Linked DNA regions of Homo sapiens. The protein of the gene in region 3 interacts with the protein of the main gene of each other region in a pairwise test. Each region holds a gene or a part of one and is shown on either strand. Other genes may lie near its edges.

The links.
Region 1: the proteins of TIE1 (region 3) and MTMR14 interact in a two-hybrid assay, tested with the Homo sapiens proteins (one study listed by BioGRID and IntAct).
Region 2: the proteins of TIE1 (region 3) and PSG5 interact in binary tests that used the Homo sapiens proteins (3 or more experiments, as listed by UniProt).

What each region holds. Positions count from the first base shown.
Region 1 is NC_000003.12:9,694,410-9,701,521, forward strand, and holds part of MTMR14 (phosphatidylinositol-3,5-bisphosphate 3-phosphatase MTMR14), read left to right. Parts: exon of another isoform or gene 1-1,116; intron 1,117-3,301; coding exon 3,302-3,457; exon of another isoform or gene 3,458-3,801; intron 3,802-3,926; exon of another isoform or gene 3,927-6,083; intron 6,084-7,112. UniProt on the Homo sapiens protein: Lipid phosphatase that specifically dephosphorylates the D-3 position of phosphatidylinositol 3-phosphate and phosphatidylinositol 3,5-bisphosphate, generating phosphatidylinositol and phosphatidylinositol 5-phosphate.
Region 2 is NC_000019.10:43,169,425-43,176,536, reverse strand, and holds part of PSG5 (pregnancy-specific beta-1-glycoprotein 5 precursor), read left to right. Parts: intron 1-388; coding exon 389-667; intron 668-1,067; coding exon 1,068-1,322; intron 1,323-4,981; exon of another isoform or gene 4,982-6,398; coding exon 6,399-6,442; 3' UTR 6,443-6,482; exon of another isoform or gene 6,483-6,532; intron 6,533-7,112.
Region 3 is NC_000001.11:43,317,931-43,323,669, forward strand, and holds the end of TIE1 (tyrosine-protein kinase receptor Tie-1 isoform 1 precursor), read left to right. Parts: coding exon 1-142; intron 143-1,304; coding exon 1,305-1,418; intron 1,419-1,528; coding exon 1,529-1,599; intron 1,600-3,338; coding exon 3,339-3,379; intron 3,380-3,465; coding exon 3,466-3,562; intron 3,563-3,685; coding exon 3,686-3,785; intron 3,786-4,720; coding exon 4,721-4,792; 3' UTR 4,793-5,178; downstream 5,179-5,739. UniProt on the Homo sapiens protein: Transmembrane tyrosine-protein kinase that may modulate TEK/TIE2 activity and contribute to the regulation of angiogenesis.

The DNA.
Region 1 (7,112 bases), on a different chromosome or scaffold from region 3:
GGTCAGAGAATCGTTTGAACCCAGGAATTCAAGACTAGGCTGAGCACCATAGTGAGACCTTGCCAATACAAAAGATAGATTAGATAGATAGATTGGATGGATGGATGGATGGATGGATGGATTGGGATGGACTGGGATGGACTGGGATGGATGGAGTAAATACTCATAGTAGATACCTTTTCACGAATGCTCAGTAAACTGTAGCTGTGGTTAAGGACTTGGCCTTAGTCATTTGTCCGAGAGCCTGTAGGCTCTGTCATGGCACTAGGCAGCTGCGTAAAAGGCCAGGCCTCCATCCCGACCTGTGTATTCTTGCCTGGGTTGAGCCAGCTCGGTTTGTGTGAGTATTCTTGTACCCCCTTCCAGAAAGGACTAGCTAAAAGACACCTGCTCTGAGTTGGCCATCAGCAGGGCATCGGGGGAGTTGGGAGCCGGTAGGAACTGCAGCTCTGGGTGCTGTGAAGAGGGCCCTGAGCCGCATCCAACTAAGGAAGTGAAATGTTGCTGAGCTCCCACCCTCCTAGGCAGAGGTCTGAGCCGCTGGGATGTGGACAGGTGACCTCTGAAGCGTTGTTCAGCTCCGCCACCATCCAGTTTGAGGGTTGCTTGGTCCCATGTTCTCTCCAGTCCTGTAGTGGGAGAGCAGAGGGGGTGGAGCTTGGATCCCTCTGTTTGCTGCTCAGGGCAAAAGACTTTGGGCTCTTGTTGAAGCTGGTTAAGTTACCTGTGTTCTTAGACTGACTGGAAGGCTTTTCCTCCCTTCTCAGTATGTGGGCACAGGTCCTTACTCCCGGTGACATGATGCACTGTAGGTGTCCCCTGCAGCCAGCTAATCCATGGTGGTATTTGTGAACACCTTCCTGCTTAGCATGGCCCTTTGCTCTCAACCCCAGGAGCTGAATGGTCACTTTGTAGCCCTTCCTTTGACAAAGGCCTCACGTAGGAAGACTCCTTTGTAGCCAGTGTGCTCACTCTTGAAAAATCCCAGAGTCTGCAGAAGATGGCTGCTTGCTGAGAGATGCTTCTGTCCCCTGGGATCACACACCCTGCTGCTGTCTGTGCTGCCTAATCCATCCGACAGCTGCTGCAAGTGCGGTTCTTGGCCGGTGTTACCTACTGAGACATGGGGGAAGTAAAGGGAAGTGACAAGCCCAGGGGACCTGGAATCCTTGAGGGGAGCCAGTCAGTAACTCCATCCCATTGGTCATGTTTCCCTTGCCAGTGTTACTCTTTGGCTCTTGGGGAGTGGTTTTGGGGCCTGAGAAACTTCCCCATGCTCCCAGCCCCAGCTGTGCCTCAACCTAGTCAGCATCCCTTCCATTCCCTCAACATTCTGGTTTTTAGCTGTTGTTTTCCCACAAGCTGCTAGAACTGGAAAAGATTCTACCCTGCAGCTTGAACAATAGACGAGATTTGTGGAGCTAGGATGCATCTCAGGGTTGTGCCGGCTGAAGGCCTGGTGTGACCTGGAGGGGGCACAGGGCAGGCTGCTCCTGGGGAGCTGTCTCTTTGATTTACAGACTGCCTGAGCCCAAGTTTCTCCATCTAGAAACAAGGAAGCCCTGCTCTGTCGGGCCCTAGGGGCTTCCGTCAGGTGACAGACCATATCCCGTTCTCATCCCTAATGCTGCCATCACGCACCTTCTAGAGTTTAGCAGGAATGATGAATGTGACAAGTCTGTATGTTGTAGGGGGTTCCGATTTATGGCAGCCTTAACATAGAAAACCATCTGTTTTCCCTGGTCCCAAGGTGGTTCTGTTTCAGGACAAATGTGTAATCATTCTTGGTTTTAAAAATCTCTTCTCAGCCGGGCGCACTGGCTCACGCCTGTAATCCCAGCACTTTGGGAGGCTGAGGCAGGCGGATCACCAGAGATCAGGAGTTCAAGACCAGCCTGGCCAACATGGTGAAACCCTATCTCTACTAAAAATAGACACAAAAAAATTAGCCGGGCATGGTGGCGGGCGTCTGTAATCCCAGCTACTTGGGATTACAGTTGGGAGGCTGAGGAGAATTGCTTGAACCCAGGAGGCAGAGGTTGCAGTGAGCTGAGATCACGCCACTGCACTCCAGCCTGGGCGACAAGAGCAGGGAAAAACAAAAACAGAAACCTCTTCTCACACTGTCTAGCTGTGATACCTCAAGCAGGTGTCTTCACCTGTCTTACAGATGGGGATGGTTAAGGATTGCCAGAGTTGCAGTGCCTGGCTGGCTGCACTCCAGTGGCAGCTGCTTGGGGATAAGACTAGCACGGTGACCAGTCGGGCTGTCACCTCAGACTAGGAGCCCTTGACATCAGCCAGCTGGGGGAGCCAAGGGCAGTGAACATTTTTCTCCACCCCCAATCCCTGCTCTTCATTCCTGTTTCTGGATCCCTACTGGAGTACCTCCTGCTGTTTTTGGATGAAAGAATAAAGGGTCAAGCATCAAAGATGATGTCCTGGGGACTGGGACCTGGGGTAGCAGGTGGAAGGGCCTTGTTTGATGTCTCCCTATTGCCTCCCCGACCCACACTGGCTGGACTACTGCCCAGGACAGAAGAGGGGGGTTGGCTGTGAGTGGGGAGGAGGTGGAAGCGGTAGATTCCCAGCACAACCTTCTTCCTCCCACCCCCAAAACCTCCATCTGAAGAAGGCCTGAGGAAGCTGTCAGGCTGCCTGCCTGATTCATCCCTTCCCTCTGGGCATAGCCACTGAGTCTGCTGGGCTGATGCTTCTGAATACAAACTATGGCACCTGGAAGGCACTGCAGAGAAAGGGGGGACCTCAGGGCTCCCATTCCATCACTCTTGAGTCTAGGTCATACCCTCCACAATCCCCAAGAGGCCCGTACTGTCTCTTCTGATGGGACTCCTGGGTTCTGTGTTGCCCACCCTGCAAATCTGCATGCCAGCAAGTATGGGTGACCCGGCTGGCTGCTGGGTCACCTTCATTTGGGTGCTAGCCTTGCTGCCTTCCTTTGGTGCTGTTGAGATTGTCCTTGCCGTGTTCACTCCCAGCGCAGGCATGCCCTGGCCCCAGGCTGTGGCTCCGATTCACTCTTACTGCCATGCTTTGTTCTCATTTTTTGCTTCCACAGTAAGTCTGCACAAAATACTGTCCTCACAGCTGAGCTTACCTGGTGATCTATTCTTTTTTCTCGGTCACTACTTGTCCAGCTTTTTTTTTTAGACTTTTGGAGACAGTGATTGACAACAGAACCTAGCAGCCAGGGCTGCGCTAGTCCCCTAGCCCCCTCCAGAGCCTGTGTCAGGCATATGACTGACTGCATCCTCTCCCCTCTCTCTCCTCTCTGCCCCAGATCAGTGGACCATCCCCTGCCCGGATCCTCTCTCTCCACAGACTATGGCAGCTGGCAGATGGTAACGGGCTGTGGCAGTATTCAGGAGCGGGCTGTCCTGCACACAGACTCCTCTCTCCCTTTCAGCTTCCCGGATGAGCTCCCTAACAGTTGTCTGTAAGTGTCTTGCTTGAGAAGGCAGGATGCTCCCCTGCCCATGGGAAAAGCTGGTGAGCAGTCAGGAGTGCTGGGTAGGAATGAGGCTGGCGCTCAGGAGCTGGCCTGGCCTCCTGCCCTCCCCTCTCTCAGCTGCTGGACCCGAGGTATGAAGGAGGCCTGTGGCTGGTCAGGAAGTGCACTGGTTTGTGTGTTCACTCTGCAGCCTCTAAAACCCATCCACTGGTGTCTCAGGTGCACCCAAAGGGAAAGCTGCTGGACTGTAACTATAGAAGATTCTATTTCTGTATAAGCCTTTGCCTGACATGAGAATCGTTTGAAGGCAGAACAGTGGGATAGTGAAGGTAGGTGTATGGTGGAGGCCAGAGCCAGAGTGGTGCTGGGTTAGCCCGAAGCTTTGCTCCTGAGCAGAACCTAGGGTTACTTGCTGTCTCTACCCGCCTTGTCTTCTGTTTTTGCCTCTGGGCAGGAATAAGAATTGGATGGGGATTCTAGATCCCACACCTACAAAACCCTGAGTTTCCAGCCCTTAACAGTGTGTCCACCTGACTGGAGCAGCTGCCTCTGGGGAAACCACCTGCCCCTGGCCTGTTCTGCCGCTTCATGGATGTCAGGCAGGAGAAAGCCTCTGGTGGCCAGGGGAGCAAGCCCTGCTCCTCAGCTGTGGTGCCTGAGGGCCTCTCAGCAAGCCTTCCATACCATGGGCTGGATGAATGGCACATGCTGGGGCCTTACCACCAGCACCGCAATCCAGCTCATCCCCCCACCCCTGTTGGCAGGTGGGAGGCAGGGTGCCTTGGGGAGTTGGGAAGGGAAAGGGGGCCCTGGATCCTAGCTGAGGGCAGTCAGGAGCCAGTCAGACCTTGAAATTCCAGGATGGCACAGGTCCTGGCTCTGCAGCTGTGAAGTCATCAAAGAGCTTCTGAGGTCACTGTGCCTGGCACAGCCTCCTCTGCAGCCAGCCCCTAGGCTAGAAACAAGATCTTAGATGTTCGAAGGCTTAAAAAAAAAAAAATTGCAGGCCGGGCATGGTGGCTCACGCCTGTAGTCCCAGCACTTAGGGAGGCCGAGGCGGGCGGATCACCTAAGGTTGGGAGTTCGAGACCAACCTGACCAACATGGAGAAACCCCGTCTCTACTAAAAATACAAAATTAGCTGGGCGAGGTGGTGAATGCCTATTAGTAATCCCAGCTACTCGGGAGGCTGAGGCAGGAGAATCGTTTGAACCTGGGAAGCGGAGGTTGCCGTGAGTCGAGATCATGCCATTGCACTCCAGCCTGGGCAACAAGAGCGAAACTCTCTCAAAAAAAAAAAAAAAAAATTGCACCTTTCTGTAAAGACTTCCTACTCCAGCCCCATTTGCCCAAGAGCCATCTCTGAAGGAAGCACAGATATCCCTGCTTGATAGCACTCCTCACTTACCTGGGGTTAGCCACTGAAACAGGCAACTCCAGCCCCAGATCACCCACCCTAGAACCTACAATTTAGGCCCCAGGCAGCACTCTAAGCTGCTAGCCAAGCCTTTAGTTCTGGGAGGTTCTCAGAGGAGGGCTGGATTCCGTATGATCTGAAGGCCTGCAAGACTGTGGGATGTGGTCAGAGTTGATTCCTGTGAAGCCGTGCAGCATGTGGGTTCAGCACTTGGGCTTTGTTATCAGAAAAACTTAAGGCCAAATCCTAGCTGCTCTATTCACCAGCTGTATCTTCAAGTGTCAGCCTTGCCTTTTCTGAGCCTGTTAGCTCATCTCTCAAGAAGGAATGGCACTGTAGTACCTCCCTTGCCTGGTGTGTGTCCTTAAATGGGTCACATAACCTCTCCTCTTTTCTCATCTCTCAGTAGGTGGTGGTCTCTGTCCCTTTCACCTCTCAGAAATGGGCAGCCATGTCAGGGGGGTGGGGCAGGGCAGTGAGAATGCTCATGTATGGATCTTTGGATGTTCCCTGTGAGTGTAAACTCTTGGTCTGTTTCTCCCTCGTATGCTATAAGGAGAAGCTAAGGCAAGCATGCATGGCCTTTGGCCTGTGTGAAATTAGAAAGTAAAAAGATCTCAGGCCATGCTTCTTCCCCAGTTGCCAGGAGAGACTTCAGGATTGTTGATGGTAGTACAGGAATCCAGTCTCAGCTCCATGTTCTTAGTGCTGCTGCAGGAGTGATTTGACTTTTCTTTGCCCCAGAGCCTACTGCTTCCATCTCTCACATTTCACTCCCACCGATCTGCTTTCCCTAGAGTCCTGTCTATCTCCCCCCATACTTACCTCAGGACTGTCATTTATCCTCAGACATCCCTCTGCTCCCACAAGCCCTGGGTACAAGTCATTGAGCCGTTGGGATTGGGTTCACTTCAGCTGCCTCTGACAGATTTCCAGGGAGGGACTGTCCAGGGATTGGTTTCTTGAGGGCAGATTTGGAGCAAGATTAGTAGGCATGGATGGTCTTAGTATTTAGGTGTATGGGAATGTGAGGGCTCTTCTCATGTAAGTCTGTGACCCCTAGAGAGGGCCCTCCAGGGACCCATTGGGGGAACACTATGTGAGTACCTGAACTTTGAGTCCAGAGTCCATGGGCCTCTTCTATTAAAGGCCCTTGGGGATGTCACACAGCCTCATGTGGAGTCATGCTTTGATAAGCCTGAGTTGTGCGCACTTGTTTCCCTTCTTGACTTGTAATTTCAGGGTAAGGAAAGAAGAGGGGCTTTCATCTGTGATCAGAGCCTACAGAGGCCAAGAGAGGAATGGGGAATAGAATCAGAACACAGATCTTTCTGGAAAAGCCAGCACCCTTTCAGCTGTTTACCTGGAAACCACAGTGACTGAAGGTGTAGCTAAAGCCCTAGAGGTTTCCAGTGGGGAACCCTGGCTTCAACCCAGCAGACAGTGGGTTCTTCCAGGGCAATAGCTTCCTCCTAAGATGCGTCATGTCTAGGCCTCAAGGCTGGGGCCTTTTTTTTCTTTTCTTTTTTTTTTTTTTTTAGACACAGTCTCACTCTGTTGCCCAGGCTGGAGTGCAGTGGTGCAGTCTGGCTCACTGTGACCTCTGCCTCCCGGGATCAAGTGATTCTCCTGCCTTCAGCCTCCCAAGTAGCTGGGATTACAGGCATATGCCACCATGTCCAGTGAATTTTTATATTTTCAGTAGAGACAGGGTTTTGCCATGTTGGCCAAGCTAGTCTCGAACTCCTGACCTGCCTCGGCCTCCCAAAGTGCTGGGATTACAGCCAAGGCTGAGGACTTTCAACAGCTGCAGCGTGCTGCCAGATTTCAGGGGCCTCCTTACTGTTAGGTATAAGACTTCATGCCTCAGCTTGCTCTTCCTGAGGAGTGGAAGCAGAGAGCTGCTGGGGCAAATTCCCTCCTGCTTAGCTACCCTCCTTCCCAGTGATCGCAAAGATAGTTATTTTCACAACAGGTCAGGTCAGGCCAGGCACAGTTGCTCACGCCTGTAATCCCAGTACTGTGGGACGCCAAGGCAGGCGGATCAGTTGAGTCCAGGAGTTTGAGACCAGCCTGGGCAACATGGTAAAACCCTATCATGGTGGCATGTGCCTGTAGTCCCAGCTACTTGAGGGGCTGAGGTGGGAGGATGGCTTGAGGCTACAGTGAGCGCTGATTGTGTCACTGCATTCCAGCCTGGGCAATAGAGTGAGACCTTGTCTC
Region 2 (7,112 bases), on a different chromosome or scaffold from region 3:
GGACAAAGTAGGATGGAATTTGGAAGGGGCCCAGCAGTTGCACATTCCAGGTAAGGAACCCAGGGTGAGCCAGCCAGTCAACTGATTATGGAGGGACTGGGAGGGGTACCAGGGGCTGTGACTCCCACTGATGTGTCTGTTCATGACCCAACACTGCTGCTCAATTGACACTTGAGAAAGTCTGTGCTTCCCTAAAACAGAGCAGGTGGCCTCACAGTCTTTGAGCCCTTAGATCATCATGCATCTATCTTGTGACACATGCATCAGCTACTGGCTTTCAAGGACTCTGGTGGGTTGACAGGTGGGAGATGCCAACTCTGATTGAAGGATGCCTGTGGAGGAATCAAAGGTGCCACACAGGACAATCTTCTCTCTGTTATCCACACAGTGAAGCTGCCCAAGCCCTACATCACCATCAACAACTCAAAACCCAGGGAGAATAAGGATGTCTTAGCCTTCACCTGTGAACCTAAGAGTGAGAACTACACCTACATTTGGTGGCTAAATGGTCAGAGCCTCCCGGTCAGTCCCAGGGTAAAGCGACCCATTGAAAACAGGATCCTCATTCTACCCAGTGTCACGAGAAATGAAACAGGACCCTATGAATGTGAAATACGGGACCGAGATGGTGGCATGCGCAGTGACCCAGTCACCCTGAATGTCCTCTGTGAGTATCTTTTGTTCCTCTGTGGGCCAGGACACCAGCTTAAATCTAAATGACCACAAGCCAGTCCTCTCAGTCTTTCTCCGGTCCAAGTATAGACACCTTTATTTCTGGACATCTGAGCTGGCCATGACTCCCTGCCCTTGGAAAACCTAGGTAGGCACAGCCTTAACCAGGAATATAAGGGGAGGGGGCGCTCTTGTCATGGGAGACTTTGTGTCAATAGCTTGTGATGGGAGAAACAGGTGAATACCTCAGGCTTTGGCTCAGTGAATATAGTGGGGGTTCGGCTGGGACTTGAGGGTGTGTCTTGGCTCAGAGGGTCACTGTGTCCCTTTAAGAGACCAGGAGCATCCCCTTCCCTTGGATGACATCACCTGTGGCTTCATTCTCTTTGCTCCAGATGGTCCAGACCTCCCCAGCATTTACCCTTCATTCACCTATTACCGTTCAGGAGAAAACCTCTACTTGTCCTGCTTCGCGGAATCTAACCCACCGGCAGAGTATTTTTGGACAATTAATGGGAAGTTTCAGCAATCAGGACAAAAGCTCTCTATCCCCCAAATTACTACAAAGCATAGAGGGCTCTATACTTGCTCTGTTCGTAACTCAGCTACTGGCAAGGAAAGCTCCAAATCCATGACAGTCGAAGTCTCTGGTAAGTGGATCCCAGCATCCTTGGCAATAGGGTTTTAGGTGGAGTCTACCTGGCTTTCAGAGAAGAGTTAGGAAAACATTTTTATTCCCAGCCTGTGTCCCATGGGCACAAGCAAATCCCAAATTCTCCTCCTGAACCCTTCCAATTTGTCTCTACAAACTCTCTTCTCCTTGTTTTTCTGTTTTCTCATGGCTGACCTTGTGTCTGGCCTAAGAAAGTTAGGGAGGGGGCTTTATCAGCCCTGAGCCCTATGTGGTAGAGGAGGCTTCACAGAGGGATGAGAAGGAGAGTCCTCAAGATCAAGTTGCTTCTCGATGTCACCAACACATCCCCTTCTGCCATGTCTTTGTTTCCTTGTACCTATTCCATGAGCTACAAGGAACATCTGAGGCTCTGAAACAAGCTCACACTTTTCCCCCAAATGAGACGAGGAAGCCCCTTGGGTGAGGGAGGAGCAGCTCAGACTCTGCTTCCTGCTCTGCTCCATGCTTCTCTGGTGACTGGGCCTGCCTCACTCAACCTGGGGTGGGACCAGCATGTGTGGAGAAAGAGTCCTGGTGGCCTGTCCTGAATTTGGCTAAATCGAGCTGCCAGTTGAAGCCAAGCCTCCCCCGGGCCAGGCTGCAGGGAAATAAGAAGAGAGGGAGCCTCAGGGAAGACTCCTGCGTTGCGTCCTGGCTCTGAAGTCACCGGTTGTATGAGGTTGTGGGCACAGCATGTGGGACACAGCACGGAGGATAGTGACTGATGCAGAGCTGGAGAAATAGAGAGATTCACCCCTGGGGCTCTGCATGGCAGGAAAGGGGCAGTGCCAAAAAGTGTGTAATTATAGAGAGGGTAAGACTACCAGACACTTTATATATATCTAATATAAGACTTACCATTAACTATTTCTATGTGTGCAATTTAGTGTTGTGTAACCATCACACTATCCATTTCCAGAACTTTTTCCTCTTACCATATTAAACCTCTGTACCCAATAAACAGTAACTCACTCCTTCTCCCCATAACCCTTAGCACACACCATTCTACATTCTGTCTCTATGTAACTGGCTATTCTAACTATCTTTTATAAATGGAATTATATGATAATTATCCTTTTGTGTCTGGTTTATTTCAGTTAGCATAATATCTTTAAGGTTCATCCATTTTGCACGATGTATTGGAATTTTATTCCTTGTTAAGGTTGAATAACATTTTAATTGTAGATACACCTCATTTGCCTACCCACTTATCTTTCAATGGACTTTTCAGTTGTTTCCATTTTTTCGCTAGTGTGAGTAATGCTTCTCTGAACATCAGTGTACAAATATTTGTTCAATTTTTTTTCATTTCTATGGGGAGTTTGTCCAGAAGTGGAATTGCTGGATCAAATGGTAAGTTATTGTTTAATTTTTTGAGAAACAGCCACACCACTTTTTACAGTGGCTATAACATTTCCCATTCCCATCAGCAATGCACTAGAGCTCCAATTTTTCCATCTACTTGAAAACACCTGTTGTTTTGTGTTGCTGTCATTTTTGTTGTTTATCAAAGCCATCCTAAAGTGTGTGAGGTGGTGTAACATTGTGGTTTTGATTTGCATATCTCTAAGTATTCGTGATGCTGAGGAACTTTGCATGGGCTTATTGGATATTTGTATATCTTCCTTGGAGAAAACTCCATTTTAATCCTTTGTTCATTTTTTAATTGGGTTTTTGGATGTTTGCTGTTGTTGACTTGTAGCTTTTCATGTATTCTGGAAATTAATTTCTTATCACACATATAATTTGCAAATATTTTTATCATTTCATAGGTTGCCTTTTTACTTTCTTGATAATGTTCTTTGATATATAAAAGGTTTTGATTTTTGTGAAGTCCAATTAATCCATTTTATTTGTTGCCTATGCTTTTGTTGTTACAACCAAGAAATCATTGTGAAATCCAGTATCATGAAGCTTTTCTTCTAAGAGTTCTGTAGTTTTTACTCTTACATTTAGATCTTTGATCTATTGTGGGTTAATTTTTATGCATGGTGTTAGGTAAAGGTTCCACTCTCTTGCCCTTGGATATCCAGCTTTCCCAATATCATTTGGTGAGAACACTGTCCGTTCCCCATTGAATGATCTTGGAACACTCCATGAAAATCATTTGGCCATATATGCAAGCATTTCTTTCTGGGCTATGATATTTCATTAATTTCTATGTCCTCCTTTATGCCAGTACCACACTGTATTGATTACTAGGGCTTTGTAGTAAATGCTGAAATCAGGAAGTGTGAGTCCTCCAGCTTCATTCTTCCTCTTCAAAGCTATGTGTCTATTTAGAGTCATGAGATGCAATATAAATTTTAGGACAGATTTGTCTTTTTCTGCAAAAATGTCACTGAGATTCTGACAGGAATTTTATTGAATCTGCAGCTCACTTTGGGCAGCACTGTCCTCCTAACAATATTGAGTCTTCCAATTCATGAACACAAAATGTCTTTCAATTTATTGATGTCTTCTTTCATTTCTTTCAGCAATATTTTGTAGATTTCAGGTATAATTATTTCACCTCTTTGGTTAAACTTATTCCTAAATATTTTATTCTTTTTGATGTTAATATAAATTGAAATTATTTTTCTTAATTTCCCTTCAGATTGTTCATGTTTAGTGTATTGAAATACAACTGATGTTTGAATGTTGATTTTGTATTGTGCAACATTACTGAATTTATTAATTTTAATTGGTTTGTTCCACCTTTAGGATTTTCTACATATAAGTTCAAGTTATCTGTAAACAGAAAGAATTTTACTCCTTCCTTCCAATTTGAATGTCTTTTTTTCAATTCTTGCCTAATTTTTCTGACTAGACCTTTCAATACTATGTTGAATAAAAGTGTCAAAAGCAGGCATCCTTGTCTTGTTCCTGCTCATACAGGGAAAGCTTTCAGTCTTTCTCCGTTGAGTATGATGCTAGCATTGGGTTTTTCACATATTGCCTTTATGTTGAGGTGGTTTCCTTCTATTCTTAGGATGTTTTCATTATGAAAAAATATTGAATTTCATCAAATGCTTTTATTGATTCAATCTTATTACTGATTATAGTTCTATTCATATTTTTGTGTGTTTCTAGGAGTTTGTCTATTTCATCTAGGTTATCCAATTTATTTGCATAAAATTATTTATAGTACTTTCATAATCATTATTTTATTAGAATTGGTAGTAATCGCTTCATTTTTCTTTCTTTCTTTTTCTTTTTTTTTTTTTTTGAAGAGAGGGACGGGCTCTCACTATGTAGACCAGTCCAGGATGGAATACAGTGGTGTGATTATGGCTCACTGCAGCCTTAACCTCCTGGGCTCAAGCAATTCTCCTTCTTCAGCCTCCCAAGATGCTATGACTACAGGTTCATGTCAACATGCCCAGTTAATTGGTTTTTTATATTTTTGTAGAGACAGCATCTCCCCAGGTTACCCATGCTGGTCCAAACACCTGGTCTCAAGAAATCCTTCTGCTGTGACCTCCCAAAGTGCTAGGATTAAAACATGACCCACCATGCTCAGAGTCCATTTTCATTTCTGATTTGAGTAATTTTAAACTTTTCTCTTTTTTTCTTAGTCAATCTAGTTAATGGTTGTCAATTTTGTTGATTTTATTTTGAAGAATCAACTTTTGGTTTCATTAATTTCCTCTATTCTTTTTCCATTCTCCATTTTATTTATGTCCACTCTAATCCTTATTATTTCCCTCATTCACTGTGCTTGGGTTTAGTTTGTTCTTCTTTCATATCCTGAAGTATTAAAGTAGGTTGTTGACCTGAGATCTTTCTTCTTTTTTAATGTAAGAGTTTACAGTTATAAATTTCTTGCACAAGACTCAACTTCTCTGAACCTCTGATTCCTCACCTGAAAATTGCAATGAGAGTGCTTTCTTCATACCATTCTTTTAAATGTTTAATGCAATCAATGAAACAAGATGCCACACAGAGGAGCCAATGTCAGCTGCTATATTACTACCATCATCATTAGCCTTGAGGTCAAATAGTCCTAGAATCAAATTTCAGATCCACCTGTCACTAGCCATATGACACCAGGAAAGTTTTTACACCATGATAAGCTTCTGTCTTTTCATCAGCAAAGTGGAAATAATTTCTACCTGACAGGGTTATTGTGTGGATTAAATGAGATACAGGTAAAGTATTTAGCACAGGGCCTGGCACATAGGAAATGCCCCTCAACAGTACCTACCTTTTTCCATATATATGGAAAAAGAGGTAACACATAAAACACTAGGACATGGTTACTGACTACTTGTGGGAGAGAAGGAAAAAAAGCTAAGTGCAAAGAATCAAGCCTGATATGTTAGTTTTTACCAACTGAGATGCACCCAAGATGGGATTAGACATACAAGATAATTTATCAGGGAGGACACCTGTGAGGGAATGTGGGGCAGACATGAAGGCAGTATGGGAGAACCCACAGACCACTATGCAGAGCTGATTCCTGTGAAAAAGAAAGAGAAAGAAGTTTTAGGTACCAATGCAGTTCTAAGAGTTTTTGCAAGGCTGAGGGGGAGTCCTCCAACCAGTCACCCTTTAGAGTTAAAGAGAGCCTCAGAGAACTAGGCTTGCTTTCACGCCCTTCCTGGGAGCCTGTGGGAAAGAAGCTTTCTGTGCAAAGGAGGTGATGAATGTGAAATGCACGGACGTGGGCCTTCTGTCAATCAGCTCCCTGCCATGGAGACCTGACAGAGTCTCATTCATGGCTGCCACAACAGAGAGACTGAGAAAAAGATGCAACCATGAAAAGGTGAAAAGGTGGTAAGTTCTAATGACATAGAAAATAGCAATCAGCCTTTCTTATGTCTGAAAGCCTTCCAAAATATCTGAGTGCAGTAGAGATTTGACAGAGGACTGATCACCATCCTAGAAACATGGTGAGAGGGAAAAAAAAAACTGCAAGAATATAATCATCTCCCATCAATTTCCCAAGAGGAATAATGTAGTACTTGAAGAAACAATTATAGAGTACCTCATGCTACATGCCTCTTCCTGAGGCTCCCCCATGTAAAATAACATCACCTTCATTCCTTCTTTACTTTTCTTTCCATGACAGCTCCTTCAGGAATAGGACGTCTTCCTCTCCTTAATCCAATATAGCAGCCGTGAAGTCATTTCTGTATTTCAGGAAGACTGGCAGGTATGATGGCCTTTTCTCTTATCCTGGTTCCTGCAGGGCTGACTGCCATGCTTGGGAGAGGGAAAAGACTTATTTGCTTGTATCTGGGACTGCATCTCCTCCTTCCTCCACTAAACTCCTGCTTCTCAGAACTAATTCCTGCAGTTCCCTTTCTCCCTGGCCTTTATGCTCCCTGTACCCCACTGTCTTTTAGACATAATTATCTCCAGCCTCTGCTCATTTGTTTCTCAGATTCAAATGAGAAACACAATTTCACATGGTGAAACCCTCTTCATTATTTTTAACATCTCTCAATAGTGTAATTCTCTACACTCCCATAAAGCTCAACCACTTCTCAAAGTATTGCTTGACTTCTTGTGGCCAGACTTTGAAACCTTCCTTGCATATGACTGCCTCATTACCTTTCTAAAATCTAGTTAATTCACTTAATCAAGAATCTGCAGGGGTCTACTCTAGCCTATTTGATAAGTTCACATTTCTTCTATTTAGTAAGCCTTCTCACTTCCTTTACCTCTACTTCCTAGTATAATTCCTTCATCCTAATTAGAACTGTCTTCCTACACATCCCTGCCCCTTCACCCATATAGACATAAAATTCTTAGTTCCAATGCTATGTCTAAAAACAGAGTG
Region 3 (5,739 bases):
TTTTCTGCGGAAAAGCCGGGTCCTAGAGACTGACCCAGCTTTTGCTCGAGAGCATGGGACAGCCTCTACCCTTAGCTCCCGGCAGCTGCTGCGTTTCGCCAGTGATGCGGCCAATGGCATGCAGTACCTGAGTGAGAAGCAGGTGTGTGTGAGTGGGGGCGGGTGGAGGCCAGAGGGGGAAGCCACTGGGCTGGTGTCAGTGGAAGAAGTCAGCCGGCCCTGATTGTATCTGGGGATTGAGGTTCCTGGCCCAAGTGTGTGGGTGGGTGCAAGCACAGCGAGGAGGCAGGGCCAAGGGGCAGGTCTGGAGGAGGTGGGGACTTCCAGTATGGAGGGTGCGGGTGTTGAGTGAGCAGGTCTAGATGCTAGCCTGGAACTCAGGAGAGAGGCCCAGGCTGGAGACAGCATCTGTGTGTGAGCTGTCACCCCACAGATGGTGCCTAATGGCAATGGGCCTGGTGCGATCTGCCGGAGAGGGGGAAGGGCAGAGATCCAAGCCCAAGTCAACTCAGGCCTGAATGAGAGGACAGGGGGATGACTGTCCAGGGGAGTGTGAGTCTGAGGGAAGGCATTTTATCTTTTTTTTTTTTTGAGACTGAGTCTCACTTTTTTGCCCAGGCTGGAGTGCAGTGGTGCGATTTCAGCTCACTACAACCTCTGCCTCCTGGGTTCAAGCAATTCTCCTGCCTCAGCCTCCTGAGTAGCTGGGATTACAGGCATGTACCACCACACCCAGCTAATTTTTGTATTTTTAGTAGAGACGAGGTTTCACCATGCTGGCCAGGCTGGTCTCGAACTCCTGTCCTCGAGTGATCCACCCGCCTCAGCCTCCCAAAGTGCTGGGATTACAGGCATGAGCCACTGCACCTGGCCAGCATTTTAAAGATAGTAAAGTTTTGAGTATGTTTGAAAGCAGAGGGGCAGGGGAAGGGGCCAGTGCAGAGGGAGGGGCTGGTGGAGAGAGGTCTCTGGGGAAGCTGGAGGGCTAAGGGAGAGAAACTGGAACCCAGGGGATGGGAAGAGGGAGGGGGAGAAGCATGGAAAGAGGAGAAGGTGCAGTATGGCCACCACTGTCTCAGGAAAAGGGATCCAGCCTGAACTTGGTCAGGGCCCAGGAACGAGCGGGTGAGAGCCAACACTGATCTTTCTCAGATATGAGTCAGCTGACGAGATTGCAGCCAGGAGGGTAGGAGTATGGGGTATTGAAGGTAACAAGGGTACCCACGAAGACTGACTCCTTACTGGCCTGACTGTCCTGGGCTCCCTCATCCCCAGTCTCTCCTGACTTCTGACCCTGCCTACAGTTCATCCACAGGGACCTGGCTGCCCGGAATGTGCTGGTCGGAGAGAACCTAGCCTCCAAGATTGCAGACTTCGGCCTTTCTCGGGGAGAGGAGGTTTATGTGAAGAAGACGATGGTGAGTCTCATTCAACCCTCACCCTTAGGGCTTGTGCCTGGCCCTGCCCCACAGGAGCCTCAAACAGGCCCTTCCTCCACACTCAGCCCCTCAAACCCATTCTCTCCTAGGGGCGTCTCCCTGTGCGCTGGATGGCCATTGAGTCCCTGAACTACAGTGTCTATACCACCAAGAGTGATGTGTGAGTGTGAGATGAGAGGGCACAGGAGGGCTTGGCCCCCAAGAATCACCCAGGCCTGACCTAGACATATCTCAGAAATGTCATAGGTGGTCTAAGGCATGACCTGGGCTGTGTTCCAGGTGTGACACAGGTGTGTCTTGGGTATAAAGTACCTAGCCAAGGTGGGGCTTGCTGGAAGGAGTCTTGGAAGGTGTTTCAGGAATAGGACTGGGGTAAAGGTAGTTTCGGATTATGTTTGTGTAAGTGACGGGGGATGCCTTGGAGAGGTTTGGGAATGCTGGCGGATGCTTCCTGAGGTAGATGGAGAGGCCACTCAGGAATTGCTCTCATCTTCCTCCCTGAAGGGCAAGGTCATGCCCACCTGAGGATCTTACCAGAGCATGACCCCCAAGACTCCCTCTCTGTGCCCCCTCCCCTGCAGACAGCCCTCTTGGCACACTCCTCCTGTCTCTCCAGGGATGTCCATCTTGATCTGAACCTACCCCTTGCCCCAAGCCCTTTGGCCTTGCCTGCATGGCTCACTGCTTACCACACTGATCACTCCTCTGACCACTACATGCCTACTTCGTGCTTCTGCCCCAACACTCCCTTGATTCCCTCCACCCCCTTTGAACTCTCTCCCCTGGTCTCAGGGCTGATGCACACTACACAGAGGCTGTTAAAGTGTGAGATGCAGTCAAGAGTAAGAGCTTTGGAGCCTGAGTTGGAACGCTTGCTCTGCCACTAACTAGCTGTATGGCCTTGGGCAATCTAGCTAACCTCTCAGTGCCTCAGTGTCTTCATCTGTAAAATGGCAAGACTAATAGAACCTGTATCATAGGGTTGGTGTGAGGGTTAAATGAATTAACATGTCTGTTAAATGACCAGGGCCTGGACCACGGTAAGTGCTCAATAAAAATGTTAGCTCGGCTGGCTGTGGTGGCCCACATGTGTAATCCCAGCACTTTGGGAGGCCAGGCAGGCAAATCACTGGAGACCAGGAGTTTGAGACCAGCCTGGGCAAGATGGCAAGACCCTGTCTCTACTAAAAATACAAAACATGGCCGGGCGTGGTGGCTCACGCCTGTAATCCCAGCACTTTGGGAGGCCAAGGCGGGCAGATCACAAGGTCAGGAGATCGAGACCATCCTGGCTGACACAGTGAAACCCCATCTCTACTAAAAATACAAAAAGAAATTAGCCGGGCATGGTGGCGGGCACCTGTAGTCCCAGCTACTTGGGAGGCTGAGGCAGGAGAATGGCGTGAACCCAGGAGGCAGAGCTTGCAGTGAGCCGAGATCTCGCCACTGCACTCCAGCCTGGGCGACAGAGCGAGACTCTGTCTCAAAAAATAAATAAATAAATAAATAAATAAATAAATAAAAATACAAAACATTAGCTGAGCATGGTGGCACACACCAGCTACAAGGGAGACTGAGGTGGGAGGACCACCTGATCCTGGGAGGTTGAGGCTGCAGTAAGCCACTGCACTCCAGCCTGGGTGACAGAGTGAGACCCTGTCTCAAAAAAAAAAAAAAAAAAAAAACAAAACAAAAGAGCTCTAATTGTGCTGAGCCCAGGGATGGGGGCAGTATGAAGGAGCTTCATTGGCGCAGAGACAACAGCTGGCCAAGGCCAGATACTTACAGAGTAGACACATACAGCGGGGCTGGGAGGCACTGCACATCTTGGGCAGGTAGAAGCTAAACTGCTAGGGACCAGGGCCTAGAAGGTAACTAAGTGCATCCTTCTTATTTCAGCTGGTCCTTTGGAGTCCTTCTTTGGGAGATAGTGAGCCTTGGTGAGTTCCTGATCCCCGTCCCCCAGAGTGCCCCACCTTACCCCACGTGGAGCCCTGGACCGAGAGCACTTTGTCCCCTCCTGCAGGAGGTACACCCTACTGTGGCATGACCTGTGCCGAGCTCTATGAAAAGCTGCCCCAGGGCTACCGCATGGAGCAGCCTCGAAACTGTGACGATGAAGTGTGAGTCACCCCATCCTTGAGCTCCATGATCCTATCTCTGTGATGAGTGACCTCAGCTTTGATCCCTGTGACCCCATCACCCCAGCTGGCCTGACTCCTCATCTCAGCAATGCCCCCTCGCAGGTACGAGCTGATGCGTCAGTGCTGGCGGGACCGTCCCTATGAGCGACCCCCCTTTGCCCAGATTGCGCTACAGCTAGGCCGCATGCTGGAAGCCAGGAAGGTGAGGAGACTGGGGCTGAGGTGGCGGGCTGGGCTCACAGAGTGCTCCAGAGTGCCCTCTCAGAGGTGCCATGACCCCTGTCCCAACCACACTGCCTGCCCAACCTCCCTCAGTGGGGGCTGTCACCACGGCTAGGCTGGGCCCCAGGATGCAGCCTGCCTTTCCAGCCCTCACTGGTTTAGACACCAGGCCCTTCCAAAACTCTTCCAAGGCCACTGCTTAGCCCCAACAGCAAATCCCTACCTTAAGCCCCAAGTCCCAGACTGCTTGCCTGTCCTCTGCTGAGGCCATCAGCCTGTCCTCATCTGGGACACCTCTCCCCACCTGCCAGAGCCAGAGCAGAGTGCATGAATAGTCACTAACCAGATGGATGGATGGGTGAATGAGTGATACAGTAACCGTATGAATGAATGAATGGAATTAGTGGATAGATGATACAATAATCATATGAACATGTAATTCAATAACTCAATCTACTAACCATGTGAATAAGTGAATTATCAAATAAATATAATGAAAAATATATCAAAATTAGTAAATATGAAGAGTTCTTCAAGTAAATTAATGATTAAATAACCATCTTAAGAATGAAGGAATGATCAAATAACCATATAAATGGATGAGTCGTCTAAAATGGCTTTTGAACAGATAAGTTACTGAATGAATGAACGCATAAGCCAAGAATTCATTGAAAGAGTGCATGTAAAAACCCTCCTCTAACAATGGCATTGAGAGCCTCTCACCTGAGGCCCCAACTGTGGCCTGATGCCTTCACTGCCCTGGGCTGGTAAAGGCCACTCTTGGCCATGGGGCCATCTTAGGTCTCCAGAACAAATCAGTGTCAGTTCAAATGCCCCCACCACATGGAAGTCCAGGAGCTTGAGGCCAGATGCACCCCCATTCCTGGCCCCCACTAAAGCTTGCTCTGCCCCCAGGCCTATGTGAACATGTCGCTGTTTGAGAACTTCACTTACGCGGGCATTGATGCCACAGCTGAGGAGGCCTGAGCTGCCATCCAGCCAGAACGTGGCTCTGCTGGCCGGAGCAAACTCTGCTGTCTAACCTGTGACCAGTCTGACCCTTACAGCCTCTGACTTAAGCTGCCTCAAGGAATTTTTTTAACTTAAGGGAGAAAAAAAGGGATCTGGGGATGGGGTGGGCTTAGGGGAACTGGGTTCCCATGCTTTGTAGGTGTCTCATAGCTATCCTGGGCATCCTTCTTTCTAGTTCAGCTGCCCCACAGGTGTGTTTCCCATCCCACTGCTCCCCCAACACAAACCCCCACTCCAGCTCCTTCGCTTAAGCCAGCACTCACACCACTAACATGCCCTGTTCAGCTACTCCCACTCCCGGCCTGTCATTCAGAAAAAAATAAATGTTCTAATAAGCTCCATTCAATGTCTACCTTTTACTGCTGGTCAATCTTGGGGTGAGGGGCGTAGTTAAACCCAAGAGACAGAAACTGGCCGGGCGTGGTGGCTCACTCCTGTAATCCCAGCACTTTGGGAGGCCGAGGCGGGTGGATCACGAGGTCAGGAGCTTGAGACCATCCTGGCGAACATGGTGAAACCCCGTCTCTACTAAAAATGCAAAAAATTAGCTGGAAGTGGTGGCGGGCACCTGTAGTCCCAGCTACTCGGGAGGCTGAGGCAGGAGAATGGCCTGAACCTGGGAGGCGGAGCTTGCAGTGAGCCAAGATCGCACCACTGCACTCCAGCCTGGGCGACAGAGCGAGACTCCGTCTCAAAAAAAAAGAGACAGAAACTGGGCTTTCTAGGAAAAGAAACACTGTCTGAGGCCTCAGCCCTCTGTTGAGGTTGCCTGTCCAGGATAGGAGGTGCTCTGGAAGACTCATTTTACACAAACACCACCAGCCCCTACCTCTGTCCTGATTAGAAGGCCAGTTTTCCCCTGTTCCCTTCCCTGCTCTCCAGCTTCCATCACTAACGTGTCT